3 linked regions of the Homo sapiens genome follow. The protein of the gene in region 1 interacts with the protein of each later gene in a biochemical or structural test. Each region holds a gene or a part of one and is shown in the gene's direction. Other genes may lie near its edges.

Region 1 (7,022 bases):
GGTGCCGGGAGGCCGTCCATCGGAGGACACACCAGCCCTTCTTCATCTGCTCCCAGCGCAGGGACGCTTGGCTGTTTCTGGATTTGGGCCCTTCTGAATAGAACTAACTGCCCAAATAGAACTGAATAGCACTGGGCTCCTCGAGCACTCCACGTCCCCAGCACTCAGGACTGTTGGTGGCTTTGATGTTGAGCCTGTTGTGGACTCCGGTTGTTGAATGTTGTTCCGTTGTCTAGAATGTTCTAGAATGTGTCGTTTTTTCTGTTTTTAAGGTTTTTATCTTTGATTTAAAATATTGACTATGCTCTCCTTAGATGAGGCTTTCTGTTTTTATCCTGCTTGGGATCCACTGACTTCTTGGATCTCTGTGTTGGTACTTTTTCAAATTAACTTTGGAAAAATGTGAGCCATTATTTCATGAAACGTTTTTCCATCTCAGCTTTGCTTTGCTTTGTTTTGTTTTGTTTTTGAGATGGAGTTTCACTCTTGTTGCCCAGCCTGGAGTGCAGTGGCACCATCTCGGCTCACCACAACCTCTGCCTCTCGGGTTCAAGCAATTCTCTTGCCTCAGCCTCCCGAGTAGCTGGGATTACAGGCGTGAGCCACCATGCCTGGCTAATTTTTTATATTTTTAGTAGAGATGGGGTTTCACCTTGTTGGCCAGGCTGGTCTTGAACTCCTGACCTCAGGTGATCCACCTGCCTCGGCCTCCCAAAGTGCTGGGATTACACATGTGAGTTACCGCGCCTCGCCTGCTTTGTTTTTTTTTTTTTTTGAGACAGAGTCTCGCTCTGTCACCCAGGCTGGAGTGCAGTGGCGTAACCTCAGCTCACTGCAAGCTCTGCCTCCCAGGTTCGTGCCATTCTCCTGCCTCAGTCTCCCAAGTAGCTGGGACTACAGCCGCCCGCCACCACACCCAGCTAATTTTTTGTATTTTTAGTAGAGACGGGGTTTCGCCGTGTTAGCCAGGATGGTCTCCATTTCCTGACCTCGTGATCTGCCCGCCTCGGCCTCCCAAAGTGCTGGGATTACAGGCGTGAGCCACCGCGCCTGGCCTTGCTTTGGTTTTTTGAGACAGAGTCTCACTCTCTTGCCCAGGCTGGAGTGCAGTGGCGCGATCTCGGCTCACTGCAACCTCCGCCTCCTGGGTTCAAGCAATTCTGCCTCAGCCTCCCAAGTAGATGAGATTACAGGTGCCTGCCACCACGCCCAGCTAAATTTTTGTATTTTTAGTAGAGACAGGGTTTTGCCATGTTGGCAAACTCCTGACCTCAGGTGATCTGCCCGCCTTGGCCTCTGAAAGTGCTGGGATTACAGGCGTGGGCCACCATACCCAGCCTTGCTCTCATTCCTGGGTTCTGGTTCTGCGTGTGACAGGAGTGCTTGGCCCTGTCCCCAGGTCCCTCAGCCCTGGCTGTTTTCCGTCTGCCTCTGTGCTCTCCTGGTGTCAGGCTGTGCGGCTGCTGCTGCTGCTGCTTGAAAGTTTACTCTTTTTCTGCAGCCTCCAACCCCAGAAGTCCATGTGGTGAATCTTTGATTGCTTAGTGGCATTTTTCGGTTTCGTCTGATTGTCCATTCGCTCTCAGCTGAGATTTCCCATGTGCACATTCACTTTGGCCATCTTTTCCTTTAAATCTTTGAACATGTTTGTGCTGTTTCTTAGTCCATTTTGTGCTGCTGTAACAGAATGCCACAGACTGGGTCATTTATTTTTATTTATTATTTATTATTTTTTGAGATGGAGTCTTGCTCTGTTGCCCAGGCTGGAGTGCAGTGGTACTATCTTGGCTCACCACAACCTCCGCCTCCCGGGTTCAAGCAATTCTCCTGCCTCAGCCTCCCGAGTAGCTGGGATTACAGGCGCCCGTCACCACACCCAGCTAATTTTTGTATTTTCAGTAGAGACAGGGTTTCACTGTGTGTTGGTTGGCTAGGCTGGTCTCAAACTCCTGACCTCGTGATCTACCTGCCTCAGCCTCCCAAAGTGCTAGGGTTACAGGCATGAGCCACTGCACCTGGCCAGATCATTTATAATGAACAGAAATTGATGGGCTCACCGTTCTGGAGGCTGGTGAGCCCCAGATTGAGGGTGGCGTCTGGCAAAGACCTTCTTGCCATGTCATGGCAAGAAGGCATGGTGGAAGGCAGGACGGCACAGACCGGAGGGGGCTGGATTCGCCCTTTAGTCAGGAACCCACTCCCCTGCTGATGGCATTCACTCATCCACGAGGGCAGCGACTCAGATCCTCTCTCTAGGCCCCAGCCCCAGCCCCAGCAGTGCTGGATTGGGGACCAGGTTCCCAACACATGACCCTTGGGGGGTGCATCAAAGACACAGCACTGTGTGGAGTGACGTCTGTGCTGCTTCTTCCTCCCTTGTCACGGTCACACCTCCCTCACTCACCTGTGGGACAGCCTCACTGGGCGTGGCCGTGGTGTGTGCCGTGAGGTGTGGAGGGTGCCGTCTCCCGGCTTGAGCGCTGAGTTTGTCCCCGTGGCTCACCTTGTTTCTGTCAGGTTGGTTTCAGCGTTGCTGGGGCAAGGCTGAGGGTAAACATGAGCGACTCCAAGGCCAGGGAGCCCTGTGCCAAGGTGTGGACCTTTTGGGTTCTCAGCTGAAGTAGAGAATCCAGGGAGGACCCCGCACTCCGGCCATTGGAGCTGTGGCGTCCTCCCTCCTGTGTGTCCCCCGGAACCTCCTGAGCCTCTCTGGAGCTGTTCTCTGCCAGGCCCCGTGGGCTCTCCTGCCCTCTGCATGCATCGCGAGTACTGCCGGAGGAGGCCCCTTTGGCTTTCAGAGCCCAGAGCGCCCGACCTCCTCCAGGAGTCTGCAGATCCACAGGCCTCAGATGCTGCCACACCCACCCAGCACACACCCAGGTCTCTGACACGCCAGCCGCACACAGCGGTGGGGTTCAGGCGAAGGTTTCTTCCACAGTGCAGAGTAGAAGAGCCGGGAAGGACCCCATCACCATCAGATGCATCAGAGCTTCAAAGGCCCGCCCATCAAGACGCTGCCAAGAGCATGAGGCCAGCCAGGCTGGGGAGGACGTTGGCGAGCATCCGCCTGCCCGTCAGGGAGCCACAGCTGGATGATACATCGACAGACAGCAGAGGGACGGTGTAGCACACAGGCGAGGGCTTGTCCTCCTCAGCCTGGGGGAGCGCAGCTCAGTGCTTGGTGGTCAGCACGTGACTGACACTTTGCCGGAGAAGGGGACGGCTGCCCGCAGGAAGAGCTACACAGCCGTGTTCGCCGGAACTCCGCTCTGGAGAGTCAGAACTGGAGACGGGAGGGCGTGCCTCAAGGGCAGATGGGCAAACCAAACCCCATCCTCCCTGTGAGCCGCGGCACAGCACCAGGCGGGCACACGCAGCACGACACGGCGAGGAGCCCACCGCAGGGGCAGCCTTTTGGGCGGGGAAGGGGGGATGAATCCACTGTGAATCCCACCTCCGAAGGGCAGCGCAGGAAGGACACGCAAATGCTGGACTGAACCTGCAGCTGATTCAGGGGGCAGTGTCCTGAGCTCTAAAACTTCAAACCTGGGGCAGTGTCCTGAGCTCTAAAACTTCGAAATCTGACCAGGCACAGTGGCTCACGCCTGTAATCCCAACACTTTGGGAGGCTGATGTGGGCGGATCACCTGACGTCAGGAGTTCGAGACCAGCCTGGACAACATGGAGAAAGCCCATCTCTAGTAAAAATACAAAAATTAGCCAGGTTGATGGTGCCTGCCTGTAATTCCAGCTACTCAGGAGGCTGAGGCAGGAGAATCGCTTGAACCCAGGAGGCAGAGGTTCCAGTGAGCCGTGATCGCGCCAGTGCACTCCAGCCTGGGCAACAGAACGAGACTCTGCTCCAAAAAGAAAAAAACTTTGAAATCCCTCTAAAAATAAAATGGACCGGTGGATGGTAGCTGTGAGGATGGACCGTGTGGCAGGTTTAGTTCTGGGGCCTCGGCAATGAGTGTTGGGTGTTTGGGGCACGGCTCCTGTTGTTTTACGAGGAGAATTTCCTAATAACGTGTTACACTGGGGAGAACGTAGGAGGGGAGCCCATTTGTTCTGAAAACGCGGGGACCAGCCCTGGTCCCCGGCTCAGGACTGGAGGGGTTGCCCTGGTCCCTGGCTCAGGACTGGAGAGACCAGCCCTGGTCCCGGGCTCAGGGCTGCAGGGAGGCACCTGGTCTTCCCTCGTCCTCACGATCCTGCACCCTCAAGATGCCACGTTGTTGAGGCTGTTTAGGGAACTTGACAAGCTGATTGGAAACTGTGCTGAAATAGAGCCCAGGTAGTGATGCGGACAGGGCAGTGCCAGAAGGAGCCCCAGCGATTCCTGTGCTGCAAGGCACGCCCAGGACGGGGCACTAGCCGGGGGAAGAGGCTCTCAGGGCCCAGGTGGGACCCCAGCCTCAGACTATGAGGTCATGACTGTGTACAGCTCAGCCACCGGGCTTTGGGACTTTGAATCCACCTTAGCAGGGTTTCCAAACCCATTGTCTCCACGGCCACCCTGCCAGTCCAGCTGCAGCAGGGCGGAACAAAGTGGAGGCCTCTTTCTTGCTTTCTTTTTTTTTTTTTTTGAGACAGAGTTTCTCTCTTGTTGCCCAGGCTGGAGTGCAATGGCACCATCTCAGCTCACCACAACCTTCACCTCCCGGGTTCAGGCAATTCTCCTGCCTCAGCCTCCCTGGTAGCTGGGATTACAGGCATGCATCACCATGCCAGGCTAATTTTGTATTTTTAGTAGAGATGGGGTTTCTCCATGTTTGTCAGGCTGGTCTCGAACTCCCGACCTCAGGTGATCCGCCTGCGTCAGCCTCCCAAAGTGCTGGGATTACAGGCATAAGCCACCGTGCCCGGCCACAGAGGCCTCATTCTGCAGCGTATGCTACTCGGGCAAAGGCAGCTGACTGCAGACCCAACACGGTGACCCAGCTGGATGGTGCCTGAGAGACGGGGCTGCCCCACATGGTGCCCTGTCATGCCGCGGGACAGGTCGCCCAGCAGATGGTAGCTATGGCCCCAGTGCCATCCTGGGCTGGAGACACATGGGTGCCAGACACGTTCATGCCTGTCGTCTGGCCCAGCTGCCGTGGGGAGCCCTCCAGGGCCGTGTGCCTGCAGGGACCGGCCTGTTCACCTCTAGGCTCACCCCTCGGGTGCTGAGTCACCACAGTGGGTGGGGCCGTGCCCCCTCCCAGGCCGGCTTCCACAGCTGCCCCTGCAGAGCGCCTCTGTGTTAAGGGCTGGCCGCCTCCTTCCTCAGGGGGTGTAACATGTAAAAAGCTGCACCCTGGCCTGTACAGGGGCTCCCGCCTGTTATCCCAGCCCTGTGGGAGGCTGAGGCAGGCAGATCGCTTGAGCTCAGGAGTTCAAGATCAGCCCGGGCAACTTGGAGAAACCCCGTCTCTACTAAAAATACAAAAATTAGTTGGGTGTGGTGGTGCGCACCTGTAGTCCCAGCTACTTGGGAGGCTGAGATGGGAGGATGGCTTGAGCCTGGGAGACAAAGGCTGCAGTGAACTGCGATCTCGCCACTACACTCCAGACTGGGCAACAGAGCGACACCGTCTCAAAAAAAAAAAAAAAAAAAAGGTTCTGGGCCTCGTACCTTCTGCGCTTTCATGAGACTCAGCCCTGGAAGTCCTATGTGGCTGGTGGCCCCAGGGAACAGGACCTGGGCTCCTCTCTTCTAACCCATGTGGGCCACAGGTCCCTGTCCATCTGTGCTGGGGCTCACCTGGGGGCCGAGGGCCTCGGGCATGTGGGAGATTTGTCTTTGAGAAAGGGGTGGAGGAGTGTGGAGCCCTTGGGGCTGCCTGCAGGCCGTGAGAGACCTCCCCAGTGCCGCTTCTGTCCTGGGCTAGGGAGGTGGGGGGGCGGGGGAGGAGGAGTGGCAGACACTGAGGCGGTGACCACACGGGCAGGGTGCAGGTGTCGGGATGACTTGGCAGGCCATGGTGCAGTGCTCTGGCAGGCTGGGCCCAGGCCCTGCTGCTGGGCAGTGGTGTCATTTGGAGGGTGGTCCTTCAGGGACCCCCTCCTGCCTCCTGCCTCGGGGGTGGGCTGGGGAGGTCGGGGCTAGGTGGGCCCTGCGCTGGCGGTGCTGATGGTCTCTGTCCCCGCAGGAAAGAATCTCTATACAAATGAATACGTGGCTATCAAATTGGTGAGTCGGCCCCTCCACCCCACCCCCGCTGACGTGCCCCCCAGGGATTTCAGGGCAGCGACCCGGTCCCCTGGTGACTCGCTCTTGTGCCCCCAGGAGCCGATCAAGTCCCGGGCCCCGCAGCTGCACCTGGAGTACCGGTTCTACAAGCAGCTCAGCGCCACAGGTACCGGGCGGCCCGCGGGTGGGGCGGGGGCTGCGCAGGGGCAGGGAGGGGGCTGCCGCCGCACGCCCGTGCGTCTGTCCTCCGCCGCAGAGGGCGTCCCTCAGGTCTACTACTTCGGTCCGTGCGGGAAGTACAACGCCATGGTGCTGGAGCTGCTGGGGCCCAGCCTGGAGGACCTGTTCGACCTGTGCGACCGGACCTTCACGCTCAAGACGGTGCTGATGATCGCCATCCAGCTGGTGCGCGGCGGGCGGGGCGGGGCGGGGCTCGGAGGGAAGAGGGTGGCCCTGGAGGGGAGCGCGTGGGACGGGGAGGGGCCCGGCCGACACCGCCGTGCCCCCCTGCAGATCACGCGCATGGAGTATGTGCACACCAAGAGCCTAATCTACCGGGACGTGAAGCCCGAGAACTTCCTGGTGGGCCGCCCGGGGACCAAGCGGCAGCATGCCATCCACATCATCGACTTCGGGCTGGCCAAGGAGTACATCGACCCCGAGACCAAGAAGCACATCCCGTACCGCGAGCACAAGAGCCTGACGGGCACGGCGCGCTACATGAGCATCAACACGCACCTGGGCAAGGGTGAGCTGCGCGCGCGCGGCGGGGGGCGGGCGCCCGGACCCCGCTGAGGCTGCGCCCCTGTCCCCGCAGAGCAGAGCCGCCGCGACGACCTGGAGGCGC
Region 2 (7,022 bases), on another chromosome or scaffold:
AACCCCGTCCCTACTAAAAGTTCAAAAATTAGCAGGCTGTGATGGCACGCGCCTGTAATCCCAGCTACTCAGGAGGCTGAGGCAGGAGAATTGCGTGAACCCGGGAGACGGAGGTTGCAGTGAGCAGAGATCATGCCATTGCACTCCAGCCTGGGCGACAGAGCGAGACTCCATCTCAAAAAAAAAAAAAAAAAAGCAAACAGTTACAATGCATATTTGTCGAGTTTCAGATGGCAAATGGCAAGCAAAACTATAACAGGCTATGTGAAGACCTAGTTGTAACTGTTTTCTGTTAATGGATGGGAAAAGTTTACATCATTATATAGTAAATGATAAGGGTTTATTTTTTGTCTGTCCAAGCACCCTCTCCTGTGAGGACTGCCGAATGCTGATTACCTTCACTCTTTGTTTAGATGATGCTTCCCAGATGGACTTGTTCCACAGAGACTCTGATGATGATCAGACTGAAGAACAGCTTGATGAGTCAGAAGCCAGGTGGAGGAAGGAGCGAATTGAACGAGAGCAGTGGCTTCGGGACATGGTAGGAGTTCACCTACTCTGACCCTAGTTTATGAGACTGTCCCTTAGCTTGTCATGATAGTTTCAAAATCTTAGCTTGTCATGATAGTTTCAAAATCTTAGGCAACATATTGCTATCTCTTTTAATCCTTGAGCTATCTTTTGTGTTTTGAGAAGGCTATACCATAGACAGTTCTCTTCATGTTTGTCTAAGATTAATTTTTTTTTGTCTAAAGCAGCAAAGGCTGCAAAAAGGAAAACAAATACCCCAGGAACTCTAGTTTCACAATCCAGGCCATGCTAACTATTTAGGAAGGTTATAGACTTTTAATGCTGTATATATATATATATATATATATATATTTTTTTTTTTTTTCAGGCACAGCAGGGGAAAATTACAGCTGAAGAAGAAGAAGAAATTGGGGAGGACAGTCAGTTTATGATACTGGCCAAGAAAGTTACAGCCAAAGCACTGCAGAAGAATGGTGAGCTCTTGTTTCTCCTTAGGGTCTAGCCCCCTGGATTGTTAGTGGTAGAGCTTTGGAGGTGACTCTAACCTTCAGGAGCTGTTGCAGCTTAATCATAAGCTTGTGTCTAATACTGTCTTAAAGAGGCTTCACAGAGGTGGTGGGAGACAGTGTACTTAGATCTTAGACTATTGGGCAGTAGAGACTGTATTCATGAGTATATGTGGCTGGTTTTACTTTATGTTCTAAGGCTCAGAGTAGTTAATTCTGGCTTTCTCTAGTTGCCCAGGATTGTATACCTAAGTGTTAGAGGTAGGATTTGAATCCAGGAATATTTAACTCCAGAAATGAAGCTCTTCACTATTCCCTACACTGACCACTTCTGTTTTTCTTAAATGATTACTGTTCAACTTAGTTGTGTCTCTTCTTGGAGCCAATTATTATAGTTTGAAAGTCACCATTATATAGAACAGAGTTCCCATGGCTTTAGCATATTGATTTAGTTACAAGATTTCTTAGCTTGTTTAGATTTAAAAGTAATTCTAATCAGCTTTTCCCAGAATAGGCCTCTCTGTCTTTTCTTTCCAGCCAGTCGCCCTATGGTTATTCAGGAATCAAAGTCTTTGCTCAGAAATCCTTTTGAAGCCATCAGACCAGGAAGTGCTCAACAGGTTGGTTGGGAACCTTGTTAATCTGACATCATAGTCTACAGGTTATAAAGGCCCAGGTCCAGCTTAGAGAATAGTCTCTGTCATTAGAGGAAGGAGGTGGCTGCAGGGAAAAAGTTAATGTCAAAGGAGTCTGCTATTTCTTTTCTATTTGAATAGGGTAGGCATATGTACCCTCAATATCTAGGGGGAAGCAGGGAGGGAAGGACTTTTCATTCTTTAGTTGGCACTTGGGATTTGATACCAGATGACTCTTCTTTCCTCAGGTGAAGACAGGCTCACTGCTAAACCAGCCCAAAGCTGTGCTTCAGAAACTGGCTGCTCTCTCTGACCATAACCCCAGTGCTCCTCGAAATTCAAGAAACTTTGTCTTTCATACACTTTCTCCTGTCAAGGCTGAGGCGGCAAAGGAATCGTCTAAGTCTCAGGTATGGAATTTGAGAACTAATATGGTGGCTTCCCAAACCAGAATTTATTCATTTATTTAAATTTAAAAACAAAAATTCTGGCTTAACCTCTATGCTGCAATGTTGAAATCTTGCACTCCCCGATAAGGTACAAGAGAATTGCTACCCCAGTCGGTAATCAACTTTTAAACTTGCCGAGAAAGTTTATCTTTCTTTCTTTTTTTCTGTTGTTAATCATCCACAATTTATGAGTTGCTTGAGAGCTAATTGAAGGTAAATACTTGTATGAAGGTCTTTAGCTGGCCCTGACTCCCTCTCTGCTCTCTAGGTAAAGAAAAGGGGTCCATCTTTCATGACTTCTCCTTCACCTAAGCACCTCAAAACAGATGATAGCACTTCAGGATTGACGCGAAGCATCTTCAAATATTTGGAGAGCTAACACCATCAAAGGTGCCAAAATCTACATTGAGACTGCTTTGAGAAGTTTCTAGCACTGAAAGTTGGAATTGACACTCCAGCCAATGATCCTTCCTTCTTTCATAATCAATGCAATAAGATTGCAGACAGAAATTCCAGTGATTTCTACTGCACAGCTCTGGACATCTCTTTTCCTAGTATTATTCCCTGAATTGGCCACTGATTTCAATTCTGCAGTATTTACAACATCAACAACTCATGGAATACTTGGGTGAGGTTTCCTTTTTTTTTTTTTTTTTAAGATGGGAGTCTCACTCTGTTGCCCAGCTTGGAGTGCAGTGGCGTGATCTCGGCTCACCACAATCTCTGCCTCCCAGGTTCAAGCGATTCTCCTCCTTCAGCCTCCCGAGTAGCTGGGATTACAGGCATGTGCCAATACGCCCAGCTAATTTTTGTATTTTTAGTAGAGACGGGGTTTCACCATGTTGGCCAGGCTGGTCTTGAACTCCTGACCTCAAATGATCCATCCACCTCGGCCCCACAAAGTGCTGGTCACATGCATGAGTCACTGCACCTGGCCTTGGGTTAGGTTTCACTTCCTCCATTAGACATTTGACATTTTATTGTAGCAGCTTTCTGGGTTAATATCTCTTTGTGATTGATAGAAGTGGTTGGAAGAGGAAGAGTAGGGAAAAGTGTGACATTACAGATTAAACAGTGAAAATCAGTACCATAATGACTCCTTTACACCCATGAGATACGTACCATGATGACCAGGGCTCGGTGAAAGAAAGATTTCTTTTTTTTTTTTTGAGATAGTCTCACTTTGTTGCCCAGTCTGGAGTGCAGTGGCGCAATCTCGGCTCACGGCAACCTCTGCCTCCCGGGTTCAAGTGATTCTCCTGTCTCAGCCTCCCAAGTAGCTGGGACTACAGGTGCATGCCACCACACCTGGCTAATTTTTGTATTTTTAGTGGAGACAGGGAGTCACCATGTTGGCCAGGCTGGTCTCGATCTCCTGACCTCAAGTGATCCAGCTGCCTCAGCCTCCCAAAGTGCTGAGATTACAGGCGTGAGCCACTGTGCCCAGCCAAAAGAACGATTTCTTAGATGGAGGACCTAGGAACCAACAGATGGGCTGCTGTATTACTCTTACCCCTTTCATTTTCCTGTATGCTTCTTCCCAAGGCAGCATCAAATTTTGAATTAATTTTTGCTGCTTAATAAGGACTTAAACTGGTACCCAAGTCAGAAAGACTCTGCCTCTAATTTTCTGGGGCTTGGGGATGAAGATAAAGTGTTACACCCAGTGTTTGTCCACCACAGTCTGTGGGGCAGAGAGACCCTTCCTGGGACTGAATTCTCAATTTGAAGCACTGTTGTTCAAAGATCTCCCTTCTGGGTCTGACAAGAAGAAACATAACCCTTATTTATTGCATTCTTCTGGCTTACATACATTGCCCTCACTAATCAATGGACATTTCAGCATTTCATTACTAATTTTGAGAGAAGGCCACCATGGAATTTAATAAAAATATTATTGAAGAGAATTGCCATCATTCTCCATTTTCCCTGAACTACCACAAGCTTCTCAGAATTTTAGACAAATGTTTTTCCCCTCAGAACTGAGCATCAGTGCTGCTTTGGAAAAACATTCCATGTGAATACTGTGGTTTCAGTGTCAGGACCTGTACTTGGGCAGTTGGAAGAGAGTGTGCCAGTTTTTTACTGGGAGATGGGAACACCAATTTAATTGATGCAATTAGGTTGTAGGTTTTTTACAGTTTTTCTTTTCTTTTCTTTTTCTTTTTCTTTTCTTTTCTTTTCTTTTTTTTTTTTTGAGACATAGGCTGGCTCTGTCACCTAGGCTGGAATACAATGGCATGATCTCGGCTTACTGCAACCTCCGCCTCCTAGGTTCAAGCAATTCTGCCTCGGCCTCCCAAATAGCAGGGATTACAGGCACCTGCCACCACTCCCAGCTAATTTTTTGTATTTTTATTAGAGATGAGGTTTCGCCATGTTGGCCAGGCTGGTCTTGAACTCCTGACCTGAGGTGATCCACCCGTCTCGGCCTCCCAAAGTGCTGGGATTATAGGCATGAGCCACCGCACCCGGCCGGTTTTCTACAGTTTTCTAATACTCAAGATGTTGACTTTGACAATACTTATGTTTGTATACTTGTAATCTTATAATGGGGAAAATGTGTATAAAGATGTTTTAATATGTATGTAGTTTTTCAATAAATCTTAATGCCTTGAAGGGAAGATTTGCTGTCCAGCTTGAATGCTCATTCTTGGGTCAGTGCCTGTCTAACCTTGAGGAGCATTTCATTTTCAGGTTATCTCCATCCCAGGGAAACCCTCTGGGTCTAAACTGAGAAGCTGCTGCAATTGTCCCCTCACTGGCTTCTCAGTCCTAGTGAATTGATCAAGTTAACTTACCAAGTGGTTTGGGTTCAGCTCAGGTGAAGAGGATAATTGAGTTTACATAAATGGTACCTTCTATTATAGCTCTTTGTTTAAAAAACTTATTTTTTAGAGACAGTCTCATTCTGTTGCCCAGGTTAGAGTGCAGTGGCACAATCATAGCTCACTGTACCCTTGAACTCCTGGGCTTCAGCATCCTCCTTCCTCAACCTTTGGAATAGCTGGGCCACATTACAGGCATATGCCACCATGCCCAGCTAATTATTTTATTTTAGTAGAGACAGGGTCTTGCTGTGTTGCCCCAGCTGATCTTGAACTCCTGGCCTCAAGTAATCCTCCCACCTTGGCCTCCCAAAATGCTGGGGTCACAGGCTCAGCCACCATGCCCAGCCTGTTACAGCTTTGATTGGCCTTTCTCTTTAGCTAAGTTTGTATGTACTTCATTTTATCCATGGGTTCAAGATACATGTTTTTGCCTCTTTCTTTGAACTCTCTAAACAGTTCCCAAGGCAAAGTAGCCCTTGCTGGGCAAAAGAGAACTGAGCAGGAAGGCTAGATATTTCTTCCCTCTTGTTTCCCTACATGTCTTTTGAGGAGAGATAGAAAAGACAATTGGAATTGACAACTGAGGATAAGAAAATTCAGCCAGGTCCGGTGGCTCACGCCAGCACTTTAGGAGACTGAGGTGGGTGCATTGCTTGAACTCAGGAGTTCGAGACCAGCCTGGGAAACATGGTGAAATCCCAACTCTAAAAAAAAAAAAAAAAAGAAAAAAAAAAGAAAATTAGTGCCTGAGAAATCCAGGGAGAAAATGGTTTCTGGGCTGGGCGTGGTGGCTTATGCCTGTAATCTCAGCACTTTGGGAGGCTGAGGCAGCTGGATCACCTAAGGTCAGGAGTTGGAGACCAGACTGACCAACAAGGTGAAACCCCGTCTCTACTAAAAATACAAAAATCAGCCAGGCTTGGTGGTGGCAGGTGCCTGTAGTCCCAGCTACTTGGGAGGCTGAGACAAGAGAATTGCTTGAACCTGGGAGGCAGAGGTTGCAGTGAGCCGAGATCACGCCACTGCTCTCCAGCATGGGCGACAGAGTGAGACTCCCTCTCAAAAAAAAAAAGAAAGAAAGAAAATGGTTTCTGATTGAGGCTCCTGGGAGAAAGCACTCTTTGGAGAAAGAAAACTTGAGTCAAACTCTGGGTTACTTTTCCTTATGCCAGGATGGCTGCTATAAAGTAAGCTAAGCCTTGATCTTGGTAACAGGATTGACATGGACAGTTTCAATCTGACCCATATGCCCTTTGCCCAAAGCACTGAGCCAGCAGCATCAGTTATGTTTTAATGAAATTGAAGCCCCAGGACCTGCCACTATGGCTCTGAGGAGGACTCAGCTTCACTAGCTTGGAAATTACATATTTGGAGGGATGAGAGCCCATGAGTGTGGGAGATAGGGTAGGCTCAGTGTCAGTGTTTTTGTTTCTTCCTTGTTCCATACACTTGAGTAGGGATACATGGTATTAACCTCTTTAAACAGGTCTCTAATTTCATCTCATTAATTCACAGTTGCACAGCCATACTAGGGTCTCTTCCATAAACCATAAGATTTTATTCACCAAAGCTCTAGAGACAAGGTACTCAGATCTCTGTGGCATCCCTCATTTTCTCAACTGCTTCTCTACAAACTTCTCCTCACTTTGAGAGTTTCTAATGCTCAGGCTGGGAGACTTTTTAGGGGGTGTTTTTGGTTTTTATCTCCTAGGGTTATGTCTAATCACTCTTGTGGCATCCTGTCCTGGGATTTGTGCTCCTAAGGATAGAGGAGAGTATTTCTGGGAGGAGTGTTCCCATGATACTATTTGATTATGTCATCCTTGAGATGGTATTGTATCTTCTACCCTTATATCCTACTCATCGCCTGGCACACAGCTTGGAATGTAGTGGTGCCTACCACAGTTTGAATAAATAACACTACACCTTTCAGAGCCTCTGTTTATAAAATGAGGATACTAAGTCATGGCTGTCTCAGAGTTGCTGGGGGGCTTCAGTTGGAAAATGTATGTCAGTGCATTATGTCAAGTGCCACTCTGTAAGCATAAGAAATTGCCAGTAGCTCCCAGA
Region 3 (7,487 bases), about 36 Mb from region 1:
CCACCAAAAGGTTTTTGTTTCTGTTTCTTCCCTGGGGAGGACTATTTTATCATTGACACTGTTTAGAAATGTCACTGCAAAGTAAAATAAAAATTAGACCAACTTTTGGTCAGTTTTTTTGAAATGGAGTCTCACTCTGTCTGTCGCCTAGGCTGCAGTGCAATGGCACGATCTTGGCTCATCGCAACCTCCACCTCCCGGGTTCAAGCGATTCTCCTGCCTCAGTCTCCCAAGTAGCTGGGATTACAGGCTTGTACCACCACACCCGGCTAATTTTTGTATTTTTATGGAGATGGGGTTTCACCATGTTGGCCAGGCAGGTCTTGAACTCCTGACCTCAGGTGATCTGCCTGCCTTGGCCTCCCAAAGTGCTGGGATTACAGGCATGAGCCACCATGCCCGGCCTTGGTCAGCTTTTTATTTTTAAATTCTCTACAGACAGTGCACCCTCTTTTTGCCTGTACCCAAAGTGGACCAGTCCTGTCCCCCTGCCTTTAGTATGCTACTAGTTGGGAAACAGACAATAATTTTTTTTTTCTGTCACTGCACAGAACAGAAAATATGACATTTTTCTTTTTGAGACAGGGTCTCACTCCATCACCCAGGCTGGAGTGCAGTGGTGCAATCACAGTTCACTGCGTCCTCCATCTCCTGGACTCAAGTGATCCTCCCAACTCAGCCTCCAGAGTAACTGGGACTACAAGCATGTACTATTGCACCTGGCTTTTTTTTTTTTTTTTTTTTTTTGTAGCGACAGGGTCTCACTATGTTGCCCAAGCTGATCTTGAACTCCTGGATGTAATTGCTCCTCCTGCCTCAGCATCCTATAGTGCTGAGATTACAGGTGTGAGCCACCACGCCTGGCATGGACAATACATTAAATGAGTACATTATATATAATGTTAGAGGCCAGGCATGGTGGCTCATGCCTGTAATTCCAGCACTTTGGGAGGTCAAGACGGGCAGATCGTCTGAGGTCAGGAGTTCGAGACCAGCCTGACCAACATGGTGAAACCCCATCTCTACTGAAAATATAAAAAGTAAGCGGACACAGTGGTGTATAACTGTAGTCCCAGCTACTCAGGAGGCTGAAGCAGGAGAATCTCTTGAACCCAGGAGGCAGAGGTTGCAGTGAGCCATGATCACAATACTATACTCCAGCCTGAGGTGACTCCAACTCAAAAAAAAAAAAAAAAAAAAAAAAAAAAAAAAAAAAATATATATATATATATATATATATATAATGTTAGAAAGTGGTAAGTGTTATGTATCAAACAGAGCTGGATGAGGGGCACGAGAGTTGCAGTGTGAAATAGCGTGGCCAGGGAAGACCTCACTGAACAGTGACATTGGAGGGAGGTGAAGGAGTGAGCCCTGATGATATTCTAGGGAAGAACCTTCCTGGCAGAGGGAACTGCGAGTGAAAGGTGCTGGTGCTGAAATGGGACTGTCCCTGGCAGAGATGGGACTGCTAAACCAGAGTTTGGCCTTTAGACTGAAGGTCATGGGTAGCTATGGATAGTTGTTTTTTATTTTTGTTTTTTTAGAGATGGGGTCTTTCTCTGTCGCCCAGGCTGGAGTGTGATGGCACGATCTCAGCTCACTGCAGCCTCCGCCTCCCAGGTTCAAGCAATTCTCCCACCTCAGCCTCCTGAGTAGCTGGGATTACAGGGGTGCACCACCATGCTTGGCTAATTTTTTTTGCATTTTTAGTAGAGACGGGTTCACCATGTTGGTCAGGCTGGTCTCAAACTCCTGACCTCAGATAATCCACTCACCTCAGCCTCCCAAAGTGCTGGGATTACAGACGTGAACCATGGCGCCTGGCCTGTTTTTAATTTTGAAATAAAACAGCTTTATTGAAGCCGGGCACGGTGGCTCACGCCTGTAATCCCAGCACTTTGGGAGGCCTAGGCAGGTGGATTACCTGAGGTCAGGAGTTCAAGACCAGCCTGGCCAACATGGTGAAACCCCGTTTCTACTAAAAATACAAAAATTAGCCAGGCGTGGTGGCACACCCCTGTAATCCCAGCTACTCGGGAGGCTGAGGCAGGAGAATTGCTTGAGCCTGGGAGGCAGAGGTTGCAGTGAGCTGAGATCATGCCAGTGCACTCCAGCCTGGCCAACAGAGCGAGATTCTGCCTCAAAAAAAAAAAAAAAAAAAAAAAAAAACACAGTCTTATTGAGATATAACTCACATACCATACAACTCACCCTTTATTTATTTAGAGATGGAGTTTCACTTTTGTTGCCCAGGATGGAGTGCAATGGCATGATCTCAGCTCACTGCAACATCCCCCTCCCAGGTTCAAGCGATTCTCCTGCCTCAGCCTCCTGAGTAGTTGGGATTATAGGCATGTGCCCCCATGCCCAGCTAATTTTTGTATTTTTAGTGGAGATGGGGTTTCACCATGTTGGCCAGGCTGGTCTCTAACTCTTGACCTCCGATGATCCATCCGCCTTGCCCTCCCAAAGTGCTGGGATTACAGGCGTGAGTCACTGTGCCTGGCCCAACTCACCTTTTTAAAGTGTATAGTTTGGCCAGGTGTGGTGGCTCGTCCCAGCACCTTATGAGTTTCATGACTGCAATTTTTTTCCTCCCATTCCATGGGTTGTCTCTTCACTTTCTTGATGATGTTCTTTGAAACTCAAAAGTTTTACATTATGGCTGGCTGGTGGAGTGAGGTGGCTCATGCCTATAATCCCAGCACCTTGGGAGGCCGAGGTGGGAGGATCGCTTGAGCCCAGGAATTGGAGAACAGCCTAGGCAACATAGGGAGACCCTGTCTCTACAATTTTTTTTTTTTTTTTTGAGATGGAGTCTTGCTCTGTCACCCAGGCTGGAGTGCAGTGGTGCGATCTTGGCTCACCGCAATCTCTGCCTCCTGGGTTCAAGCAATTTTCCTGCCTCAGCCTCCCCAGTAGCTGCAATTACAGGTGCACACCACTACGCCTGGCTTTTTTTTTTTTTTTTTTGTATTTTTAGTAAAGATGGGGTTTCATCATGTTGGCCTGGCTGGTCTTGAATTCCAGACCTCGTGATCTGCCCACCTCGGCCTCTCAAAGTGCTGGGATTACAGGCATGAGCCACCATGCCTGGCCTTTTTAAAAAAATTATTTATTATTATTTTATTTATTTATTTATTTTGAGACAGAGTCTCGCTCTTGTTGCCCAGGCTGGAGTGCAATGGTGCTATCTTGGCTCACTGCAACCTCCACCTCCCGGGTTCAAGCGATTCTCCTGCCTCAGCCTTCCGAGTAGCTGGGATTACAGGCATGTGCCACCAGGCCCAGCTAATTTTTGTATTTTTAGTAGAGATGGAGTTTCACCATGTTGGCCAGGCTGGTCTTGAACTCCTGACCTCGTGATCCACCCTCCTTGGCCTCCCAAAGTTCTGGGATTACAGGAGTGAGCCACTGCGCCCAGCCACATTTAAATTTTAGAGTATAATTATTGCTGCTTATAATTAGAAGTGAGAAGACTGTTTTGAAGTAAGGGACTTCCCTGGCCACCCTCGCTAAAATTGCAACCTTACCCTCACTCCATTTCTCCTTCTCTGCTTTATATTTCTCCAAAGCACTTATATGATAATAAACTGTATAATACCGTACTTACTGTGTTTCTCATGTATCCCGGCTACAACTGTCAACTGCGTGGGACTGGTTTTGTCTGTTTTGTTCCCTGCTCTATCCCTGGAGCGTAAAGCAGTGTCTGGTATAGAGTGGATACTTAATAGATATTCGTTGAACCGGGCCAGTGGCGGTGGCTCACGCCTGTAATCCCAGCACTTTGGGAGGCGGAGGCAGGCAGATCACTTGAGGTCAGGAGTTCGAGGCCAGCCTGGCCAACATGGCGAAATCCCGTCTCTACTAAAAATACAAAAATTAGCCGGGTGTTGTGGTGCATCCCTGTAATCCCAGCTACTTCGGAGGCTGAGGCAGGAGAATCGCTTGAACCTGGGAGGCGGACGTTGCGGTGAGCCGAGATCGCGCCATTGTACTCCAGCCTGGGCGACAAAGAGAGACATCGACTCAAAAAAAAAAAAATTCGTTGAACGGAATGAGTGAACAAACAAATGGATGGATGAGTGAATGAATGAACGAAGGAACAAGTGACCGCTCGACCTTCTACAGCGACAGCGGCGCAGGCGCTCCCGCACCAACAGCCCCCCACCCCGCCACCGCCAGAGGGCGCAGACAGGCCGGGTCCCGAGTGTCTGTCCCAGGCCCCCGCCCCACAGGATCCCGGCCCGGGAGCCCCCGATGCAGGGACCCGCCCGGGACTCTGGGTCCCCGCCCATACCTCAACTTCGCACGACTGCGTGCCTCAAGCCGACGCAGCGGCCTACTCTCGCACTGCAGACGGGGAAACTGAGGCCTGAGGCGGCCGGGGTGGGGCAGACCTCCCGGCGAGCCCGAGCCCCCGCCCCCGGCTAGCCCCGCCCTGGCCCGTAAGAAGCACCCGGGGCGCGAGGCGAAGGCGCACAGCGCGGGGCCAGGCTGGGTCCAGCAGCGCGATGGCAGCTCAGCGGCTGGGCAAGCGCGTGCTGAGCAAGCTGCAGTCTCCATCGCGGGCCCGCGGGCCAGGGGGCAGTCCCGGGGGGCTGCAGAAGCGGCACGCGCGCGTCACCGTCAAGTATGACCGGCGGGAGCTGCAGCGGCGGCTGGACGTGGAGAAGTGGATCGACGGGCGCCTGGAGGAGCTGTACCGCGGCATGGTGAGCCCGGGGAGGGCTCGGGGGTGGTCGGGGACAGATAGAGCCCGGGCGCGGAGACCCCACGCCCTTGGGGTCTCGGTGCACACTCGCTGGTGCACGGCCAGCCTGGTCTGCACAAGAGGACGAGCGCCCCAGGGCCGGGCACTCATTGGCCTGGCCATCCGTGCTCTATGGCATTGTGCTTGTGGACACACCGAGAGCAACACACAAAGACTTGGGTCTCCAGAGATGTGTCCAAACGCCTGTGGAGGGCCAGGGGTTTAGCATGAGGAGGGAGGAGGCTAAGTTGAGCTGAAACCGCCACGTCTGGAGAAAGAGTGGGGGAAGGGGGGTGTCATAAAGCCAAACACAGACATGGTGACAGGGGAGATACAGCCACACAGAGACCCACGGCAAAGGAAGCAAAAGCAGACACAGATGTGCACAGTGAAGGAAGCTATAGCCACTCACGGACACAGCCCAGAAGTAACAGCCATGCACAAACCCACAAGGACACAAGCGGGGGCTGGGGGGGGGTCACCTACAGTTCAACATATGCTACAGTCACAGCCACCCGCAGACACAGCGGCATGGGCCACAGCCGTAGGCAGACACAGCACAACCCCACTGGAACACAAAATGACTCAAGTTACGGCCCTTCCTTATCTCCTAAAGAAAAAACTGACCACCTTCAAGCACAAGCGCTGATCCGCAGCCACTCAAAGACATAAAACAACAGAAATTGGCCCAGCACAGTGGCTCACGCATTTTGTGAGGCCGGGGCAGGAGGATTGCTTGACGTCAGGAGTTCAACACCAGCCTGGGCAACATGGGGAAAACCTGTCTCTACCAAAAATCTTAAAACTTAGCCGGGCGTGGTGGCATGCACGCACTTGTAATCTCAGCTCCTCAGGAGGCTGAGGTGGGAGGATTGCTTGAGCCTGAGAGGCCAAGGTCACAGTGAGCCAAGATTGCACCACTGCACTCCAGCCTGGGCAACAGAGCGAGACCGTGTCTCAAAAACAAACAAAACCCAACAGAATTTATAACTACACCCAGACATAAAACTGTGTAAGCACCGGGCACGGTGGCTCACGCCTGTAATCCCAGCACTTTGGGAGGCCGAGGCGGGCGGATCACCTGAGGTCAGGAGTTTGAGACCAGCCTGATCAACATGGAGAAATCCCGTCTCTACTAAAAAATACAAAATTAGCCGGGTGTGGTGGCACATGCCTGTAATCCCAGCTACTCGGGAGGAGAATCGCTTGAACCCGGGAGGAGGAGGTTGCGGTGAGCCGAGATCCCGCCATTGCCCTCCAGCCTGGGCAACAAGAGCGAAACTCCGTCTCAAAAACAAACAAACAAACAAAAAACTGTAAGCTATAGGAACAGGTGGACATACAACTGCAGAACCCACCGCTGCTCACAGGCACACAAGAGCCTAAGCCACAGCTACATGTATTGACACACACAGGTACTTCATCACTTGAGTTTCTGCTTGAAGTCACACTTTCAGTGACTTCTTTTTTCTTTTCCTTAGAGGTGGGGCCTCATTGGCCGAGCACAGTGGCTCACGCCTGTAATCCCAGAACTTTGGGAGGCCAAGGTGGGCAGATCACTTGAGGTCAGGAGTACGAGACTAGCCTGGCCAACATGGTGAAACCCTGTCTCTACTAAAATTACAAAAATTAGCCGGGCATGGTGGCAGGCAGCTGTAATCCCAGCTACTTGGGAGGCTGAGGCAGGAGAATCACTTGAACCCGGGAGGCGGAGGTTGCAGTGAGCCAAGATCGCGCCATTGTACTCCACCCTAGGTGACAGAAGGAGACTTTGTCTCAAAAAAAAGAAAAAAGAAAAAGAGATGGGGCCTCGCTATGTTGCTCAGGCTGATCTTGAACTCCTAGGCTCAAGCAATTCTCTCTTGTCGGCCTCCCAAAATGTCAGGATTACAGGCGTGAGCCACTGCGCCTGGCCTTCTGTGACTTCTGTATGCTACAGTGTACACAGGACCCACGAGTCCTCCTCTTCATGGTGCGACAATGGTGGAAGGCATGGCCCTTCTCCCATGGTGACATGCAGTCCCTCTGTTCTCAGACTCACACCTGGGCCCATACAGGTGAACCAATCTGGTTGCTAGTGGCAGGTGGCATCTATGAGGCCATTCTCAGGTGGTGGGCCCCACAGCTGACTGTGGACACATGCTGATGTGTCACACACCCAAGCCAGAGCCACACACCTCACACCTGCAGGACCACAGTCCACTATACGAAGCCACTGCACGATGCCAGGTCCCTCTGCATCCTCGGCCAGCCCCAGGCCCTTGGCATCAGGCTGTGGCCCTGGCAGAGACTCACACACCTGTGTCCTTGCTGAAGCCCCTTCACCACACATGAACCAGGACCATCCAGCCCTGAAGCCCCAGGCCTGAAGCCGACAGCCGGACTTTGGGTTGGGGAGGAAAGGATTCATAACCCCAAGGCTCTCTTGCTCCCTCGACAGCTGGGGACAGCTGGGTCCTATTCCCAGCAGGGGTACTGAGCCAGCCTGCGCTTGGGCCACTGCCTGTAGAGGCCACACTCAGCGCCCCGCTCTTAGCAGCTGAGTTGAGCCATGACTCATCCCACCCACCCACCTTGAGGGGCCTCGGTGGTCCTCCCTTCGGTCTCACCAGGCTGCATTTTGGCCCTCTGGGGGCTGGCCCAAGCCGTCCCCTCCCTTCCTGTCCCCTCCCTTCCTGTCCCCTGGGGGAAGGGGCCGCCCCAGCTGGCTGCTGGCTGCCAGCCTCTCCTC

Evidence for each region.
Region 2: of the proteins of CSNK1G2 (region 1) and CLSPN, one has a biochemical effect on the other in vitro, tested with the Homo sapiens proteins (one study listed by BioGRID).
Region 3: the proteins of CSNK1G2 (region 1) and PPP1R14A form a complex in vitro, tested with the Homo sapiens proteins (one study listed by BioGRID).

What each region holds. Positions count from the first base shown.
Region 1 is NC_000019.10:1,972,171-1,979,192, forward strand, and holds part of CSNK1G2 (casein kinase I), read left to right. Parts: intron 1-2,938; exon of another isoform or gene 2,939-3,901; coding exon of another isoform or gene 3,902-3,944; intron 3,945-6,134; coding exon 6,135-6,175; intron 6,176-6,271; coding exon 6,272-6,341; coding exon of another isoform or gene 6,342-6,431; coding exon 6,432-6,580; intron 6,581-6,688; coding exon 6,689-6,923; intron 6,924-6,992; coding exon 6,993-7,022. UniProt on the Homo sapiens protein: Serine/threonine-protein kinase. Casein kinases are operationally defined by their preferential utilization of acidic proteins such as caseins as substrates. It can phosphorylate a large number of proteins. Participates in Wnt signaling.
Region 2 is NC_000001.11:35,731,974-35,738,995, reverse strand, and holds the end of CLSPN (claspin), read left to right. Parts: intron 1-413; coding exon 414-541; intron 542-898; coding exon 899-1,004; intron 1,005-1,574; coding exon 1,575-1,657; intron 1,658-1,920; coding exon 1,921-2,082; intron 2,083-2,389; coding exon 2,390-2,500; 3' UTR 2,501-6,884; downstream 6,885-7,022.
Region 3 is NC_000019.10:38,253,370-38,260,856, reverse strand, and holds the start of PPP1R14A (protein phosphatase 1 regulatory subunit 14A), read left to right. Parts: upstream 1-4,482; 5' UTR 4,483-4,517; coding exon 4,518-4,718; intron 4,719-7,487. UniProt on the Homo sapiens protein: Inhibitor of PPP1CA. Has over 1000-fold higher inhibitory activity when phosphorylated, creating a molecular switch for regulating the phosphorylation status of PPP1CA substrates and smooth muscle contraction.